Homo sapiens: one gene and its partner. The protein of the gene in region 1 interacts with the protein of each later gene in a pairwise test. Each region holds a gene or a part of one and is shown on either strand. Other genes may lie near its edges.

The links. The genes of interacting proteins can lie anywhere in the genome.
Region 2: the proteins of RAB10 (region 1) and ENOPH1 interact in a two-hybrid assay, tested with the Homo sapiens proteins (one large-scale study listed by BioGRID and IntAct).

Annotation. Positions count from the first base shown.
Region 1 is NC_000002.12:26,037,084-26,040,583, reverse strand, and holds part of RAB10 (ras-related protein Rab-10), read right to left. Parts: intron 1-3,500. UniProt on the Homo sapiens protein: The small GTPases Rab are key regulators of intracellular membrane trafficking, from the formation of transport vesicles to their fusion with membranes.
Region 2 is NC_000004.12:82,454,590-82,458,089, forward strand, and holds part of ENOPH1 (enolase-phosphatase E1), read left to right. Parts: intron 1-132; coding exon 133-265; intron 266-2,325; coding exon 2,326-2,449; intron 2,450-3,500. UniProt on the Homo sapiens protein: Bifunctional enzyme that catalyzes the enolization of 2,3-diketo-5-methylthiopentyl-1-phosphate (DK-MTP-1-P) into the intermediate 2-hydroxy-3-keto-5-methylthiopentenyl-1-phosphate (HK-MTPenyl-1-P), which is then dephosphorylated to form the acireductone 1,2-dihydroxy-3-keto-5-methylthiopentene (DHK-MTPene).

The DNA of each region.
Region 1 (3,500 bases):
TGGACTCAAGTGATCCTCCCACCTCAGCCTCCCCTGTAGCTAGAACTACAGGAACATGCCACCATGTCCTGCTAATTTTTTGTTTTTGCAGAGATGGGGTCTATGTTGCCCAGACTGGTCTCAAACTCCTGACTTCAAGTGAACTTCCCAACTCAGCCTCCCAAAGTGCTGGGATTACAGGTTTGAGCCACCACGCCCAGTCCTCAGGATGTTATAGATTCTCTATAAATCATTTATAGAGAATGCTCTAGATTTTAAAAACAACACAGCCAGACGCGATGGTGCTCGCCTGTAGTCCCAGCTACGTGAGAGGCCGAGGAAGGAGGATTGCTTAAGCCCAGGAGTTCGAGGCTACAGTGAGCTATGATTGCACCACTGCACTCCAAGTTGGGTGACAGAGTGAGATTTAATCTTTTAAACAACAACAAGAAACCCTCATCACTTAATAACATTTAACACATTCCTGAAAGTAGTCTACATTCAAAGTATTTCTAGTCATCTGCACGTTGACCAACTGGCTACTTTACATTGTTTAGACACATACCATCCAGTATGGTAGCTACAAGCCACATGTAGCTATTAATCACTTGAAATATGCCTCTTTAAAATTTATTTTTTCATTACATAATATACATCCATGTAGAAATACGCCTAATCTGAGATGAGTTGTAAGCATAGCTTACAAACCAGAGAAAAAGAATGTGAAATATCTCAACAATTTTAATTTTTTTTTCATACAGACAGGGTCTCACTATGTTGCCCAGGCTGGTCTTGAACTCTTGGGCCCAAGCAATCCTCCCACCTAGGCCTGCCAAAGTGCTGGGATTACAGGTGTGAGCCACTGAGCCTGCCCTCAACAATTTTTAAATCTTGATCACACAATAAAGTAACATTCTAGATATGAGTTAAAATATATTATTAAAATTTACTTTTTAGGCCAAGTGTGGTGGCTCACGTCTGTAATCCCAGAACTTTGGGAGGCCGAGGTGGGTGGATCACCTGAGGTCAGGAGTTCTTGACCAGCCTGGCCAACATGGCAAAACCGCATCTCTACTAAAAATACAAAAAAATTAGCTGGGCGTGGTAGTGGGTACCTGTAATCCCAGCTACTAGGGAGGCTGAGGCAGGGAGAATTGCTTGAATCTGGGAAGTGGAGGTTGCAGTGAGCCCAGATCGCGCCACTACACTCCAGCCTGGGCAACACAGTGATACTCCATCTCAAAAAGAAAAAAAATTTTTTTACTTTTTAAAATGTGACTATTTGGCCAGGTACAGTGGCTCATGCCTGTAATCCCAGGATTTTGGGAGGCCAAGGTGGGCGGATCACCTGACGTCAGGAGTTCAAGACCAGCCTGGCCAACATGGTAAAACCCTGTCTCTACTAAAAAATTCAAAAATTAGTTGGGCATGGTGGCACACGCCTATAATCCCAGGTACCTGGGAGGCTGAGGCAGTAGAATTGCTTGAACCTAGGAGGCGGAGGTTGCAGTGAGCCAAGACTGCACCACTGCACTCCAGTCTAGGCAACAGAACAAGACTCTATATCTTAAAAAAAAAAAAAAAAAAAAGTGGCTATTAAAAGTAATATATGTGGCTCACATTATTTCTTTTGAACGGCACTGGTTAAACGCAATGGTAGATTTTTTTTTTTTTTTTTTTGAGACAGAGTCTCGCTCTGTTGCCCAGGCTGAAGTGCAGTAGTGCGACCTCGGCTCACTGCAAGCTCCGCCACCTTCTGGGTTCATGCCATTCCCCTGCCTCAGCCTCCCGAGCAGCTGGGACTACAAGCGCCCACCACCACGGACAGCTAATTTTTTGTATTTTTAGTAGAGACGAAGTTTCACCATGTTTGGCAGGATGGTCTCGATCTCCTGACCTCGTGATCCACCCACCTCAGCCTCCCAAAGCGCTGGGATTATAGGCGTGAGCCATCGCGCCCCGCCCAATGGTATTTTAAACCTGTGCACAGAGCTAATACATGTATGTGTTCAAGCTGTACTCAGAATCATTTATTTTCTCAACTTACACTATTCAACATCTTATATGTGAAAACATTTTTACCTGAAAGTATGAAAATGTCAGAGTCTAGGCTGGGCGCAGTGGCTCATGCCTGTAATCCCAGCAGTTTGGGAGGCTGAGGCAGGTGGATCACCTGAGGTCAGGAGTTCAAGAGCAGCCTGACCAACATGATGAAACACCACCTCTACTAAAAATACTAAATTGGCCAGGCGTGGTGGTGCGCACCTGTAATCCCAGCTACTCAGGAGGCTGAGGCAGGAGAATCGCTTGAACCTGGGAGGCAGAGGTTGCAGTGAACAGAGATTGTGCCACTACACTCCAGCCTGAGCAACAAAAGCGAAAATCCATCTCAAAAAAAAAAAAAACAAACAAACAAAGGAGGGCAGTGTGGTGGCTTCCGCCTGTAATCCCAGCACTTTGAGACGCTGAGGCGGGCAGATCACCTGAGGTCAGAAGTTCGAGACCAGCCTGGCCAACATGGTGAAACCCCGTCTCTATTAAAAATACAAAATTAGCCAGGTGTGGTGGCATATGCCTGTAATCCCAGCTACTTGGGAGGCTGAGGCAGAAGAATCACCTAAGCCTGGGAGGCGGAGGTTGCAGTGAGCCGAGATCACACCATTGCACTCCAGCCTGGGCAAAAAGAACGAAACTCCGTCTCAAAAAAAAAAAGAAATTGTTTAGTGGAGCACCAACAAATACTTGGGTACCACGGTGTGCAGGATGTTCAATCCATAAAATAACATGTTCTGCCACACCTCCACAGCAGAAGAGTCACATATTCTATATATAGCTAATATGCACTGTGCTCCTACAAAGTGCCTGGTCCTGGCACCATGTGAAGTGCTTTACTCTCACTAACCCCTAAAATCCTCACAACTACCCTATGTGGTAGATATTATGATTGACACTTTTTTTTTTTTTTGAGACAGAGTTTCACTCTTGTTGCCCAGGCTGGAGTGCAATGGCACGATCTCGGCTCACCACAACCTCTGTCTCCCGGGTTCAAGCGATTCTCCTGCCTCAGCCTCCTGAGTAACTGGGATTACAAGCATGCGCCACCACGCCCAGATAATTTTTGTATTTTTAGTAGAGACAGGGTTTCTCCATGTTGATCAGGCTGGTCTCGAACTTCCGACCTCAGGTGATCCGCCTGCCTCGGCCTCCCAAAGAGCTGGGATTACAGGAGTGAGCCACCGTGCCCAGCCTTAACACTCTTAAAGAGCCTGAAGCCGACAGAGGTTAAGTAATCTGCCAAAGTTGCACAGCTAGTAACCTGTGGAAACAAGATTCCAACCCAGCAGACTTGATCCAAAATCATCACACATCTTCCCAAGTAAAAGGGCTACAAAAAGATTATACCATTATCTTACAGGATTGAGTTTTAGTTGGGGGCATGCACCCTTTACAAAAAGATTGGAGTAGACAGAGTTAATGTTTTGCTTCCTACTCCACACTGTTCCTAAGGATAGGTTAAAGTT
Region 2 (3,500 bases), on another chromosome or scaffold:
GTAGTCTCAGGGAGCTGCTTCTCAGGTTACCATGTGGGCACAAAGAGAGAAACATATGGCATCTGTTTTGACAGGTTTTTATCTGGCTAGATGAGGTGTTCCTGTATTTTAACTTAGTGGTCTTCCCTCTAGGTTCTTTGCAGATGTAGTTCCAGCAGTCAGGAAGTGGAGAGAGGCCGGAATGAAGGTGTACATCTATTCCTCAGGGAGTGTGGAGGCACAGAAACTGTTATTCGGGCATTCTACGGAGGGAGATATTCTTGAGGTAGGTTACCTAGTTTACTTTGTTGTTTTGACGCTATCAAAGCATAAAATAATGAATCTTAATGGAAAACTAATTGGAACTAATAGAATGCTTTTTTTTTTTTGGTTGTTTAAAATTAGGTAAGAAGAAAATAATCACTTTTAATTATATTGTATTTACAGTTTCTTCTATATAAGGTTGTTATATAAAGTTTATTCTGTGTCTTGAAAAATAAAATCAGTTAGGATGCAAAATAGGATTGTGCAGTCCTGAGAAATATATAAAGACTTTTTGAATACAGCAGAGAACAAGGTGCACTCATTTGTTTCTGGCTCTTTGAAGAAATATAGATTTCATTTAAGAAGAACCAGCATTATTATAGGAGAACCAGGCACATTTTTAAATGTAATAAGGTCGTCACCTGTTGCATTTCATGTACATGAGAAAATTCTTGCTAGCCCCTCTGTGTCATCATCCCTGCACCCCCTGGAGGATGGGGTGATCAGTGAAAGAAGTGACTACATTTAGGGTTTTAAAAAGAAGTGCTGATTAGCTGAATATAGACCAAACTTAACAATAGGTAACTTGGAATATAGACTTAACTTAAAATAGGTTACTTACAATAGGTAACTTGACCAGATACTTTTTAAAAATAAATATTTACCGGCCGGGCGCAGTGGCTCACGCCTGTAATTCCAGCACTTTTGGAGGCCAAGGTGGGCGGATCACGAGGTCAGGAGATCGAGACCATCCTGGCTAACATGGTGAAACCCCGTCTCTACTAAAAATACAAAAAAAAAAAATTAGCCGGACGTGGTGGCGGGCACCTGTAGTCCCAGCTACTCGGGAGGCTGAGGCAGGAGAATGGCTTGAACCCAGGAGGCGGAGCTTACAGTGAGCTGAGATCGTGCCACTGCACTCCAGCCTGGGCGATAGAGTGAGATTCCATCTCAAAAAAAAAAAAATTTACTTATTTTAACTTACAATAGGTAACTTGAATATAGACCGAACTTATAATAGGTTACTTACAATAGGTAACTTGGCCAGACAAGTTTTTAAAATAAATATGTATTGAGCACCTACCATGTGCAAAGAACACTTTGGCTTTGGAGGTTGTAATATTCTAATTTTAGTATTTTCCTACTTTCTGTCTTATTTTTAAATCAAATATTAATAATGAAACCCTTTAATCATTGGTGACTGTTCTCTTAATACAGATACAACTTCTTTTCTGCTCTCTCTGACAATCATGACAGGACAAAAGTACCTACTGAGTTCACTAATAAGAATTTTACTCTCTAGTTACCAAGTGAGGCAAACTGCAAGAAAAAGAAAATAAGCAAAATCAGTTTTAACTTTAAAAAAAAAAAACTTAAAATTACTTTTTTTTTTTTTTTTACCTTCCCATTGGCCAAACCCAGTTTGAGTGCTTACTATGCTTGTTTTTAGTTTGTGAAAAGTTCTGAAAACATTCAAAAGATCACATCTTAGTAACTGACCCTAAATATGGACTTATTTTAATTACTGTTGGTCAAATTAGCAAGTTACAGATTTGACTCCAATTGTTTCCAAGAGGGCAGAGACATAGACGAGCCCTTGGGTAGAATTTCAAAACGTTTTAACTAGAAAATGAGAATTTCTTGTAAGTAAAATAATAGCTTATTCATGAGGCAGGTTAGAGAAATTTTTTCATCGTAAGATTAAAGGACAGTGTTCAGAATCTTTCATCAGGAGTAAAATTCAATCCAGTGAGTAGTTTGAGTGCAAATCATCTTTAAGGGTAGGATGTAGGGCATGTTTATTTTAAACTATTTCAGATGTAAAATGAACGGTAGTGAAAACCAGGTAGATTATGAAATGATCTTATGTATGTTGAGCTGGTAGTTTTCTTCTTCCAAATGTCTGTTGCTATAAAATCTTTATTTTTACTTTGTATAGCCTCCATAAAGTTCCCTATTAAGTAGATTTTCAGAAAATACTGAACGAATGAAGTAATTGTGATTGTCATGTATTTCAGAGAAAGGCATGAGGGGCATGCAAGTGTATTTGTATTGCCAGTCTTTCCCCTTCTCTTTGTTCAGCTTGTTGATGGTCACTTTGATACCAAGATTGGACACAAAGTAGAGAGTGAAAGTTACCGAAAGATTGCAGACAGCATTGGGTGCTCAACCAACAACATTTTGTTTCTGACAGATGTTACTCGAGGTGAGTAATAGACTTCTTATATTATATACTCCAGGATATGAACTGAGCCTGGCACTACAAATACATTGCCTCTTTAAAGAAACTTTATATGGGGATCCTTGAAAAATAAAACAGTTTTACGGTTTTATATAAAGAAACAGTGTCTGGTTCAAGTTCATGTTTGAATTAAAAAAAAAAAACACAGCAGTGAAGGCAGGCTTGGTGGCTCATGCCTGTAATCCCAGCACTTCTGTGGGCTCAGGCAGGAGGATTGCTTGAACCCAGGAGTTCGACACTAGCCTGGGCAACAATGTAAGACCTCTGTCTCTACAGAAAAATTCAGAAAGTTAGTTGGGTATGATGGCTCACTCCTGTGGTCCCAGCTGCATGGGAGGCTGAGGCAGGGGCATCAGGTGAGCCCAGGAGGTCGAGGCCGCAGTGAGCCGTGTTTGTGCCACTGCACTCCAGCCTGGGTGACAGAGCAAGACTGTCTCAAAAAAGAATGAACCAACTCTGGGGGTTGCATGTGGGGAAGTGGCATTGAAAAGACTAACTCTTCTCGTTTAACTCCTTGTCCGTGATTTCCCAGCCATCGCTATGTACACACACACACACACTATGACACAGGAAATTAACAGGAAGACTTAGAGGAGTTGTCATGGGAAGGAGCATGCAAGCGGGGTTGTGAGTATAAGGGGTAGGTAGTTGAGCCAGCCAGTTCTGGGATTAAATGCACAGTTCCATTTGTGATCCCCGGACCTTTGCTCTATCTCAATATTAAGAATTATAACCCCTGTCCTTAGACCACTTATAGTTTCTTCATATTCTTGTGTTTAGCCACTTAATTTTTGTATTTGGGATCACATAGTACATCTATAATTTCAGATCTTTCTCTTCTCATTTAAGCCATTTCCTCAGTTGCAATTGTAGAAATTATTCCTAATTTTGGAGAATAGAAATAATCCCTAAATTGGCTTCAAAATGAAATTAGCTCCCTTTGATTCTCTGTAAGGAGGTTTTATTCCTGCCCTTCATCTTCTGCTGGCCCCATACACACTTAGGCCAGAACTTG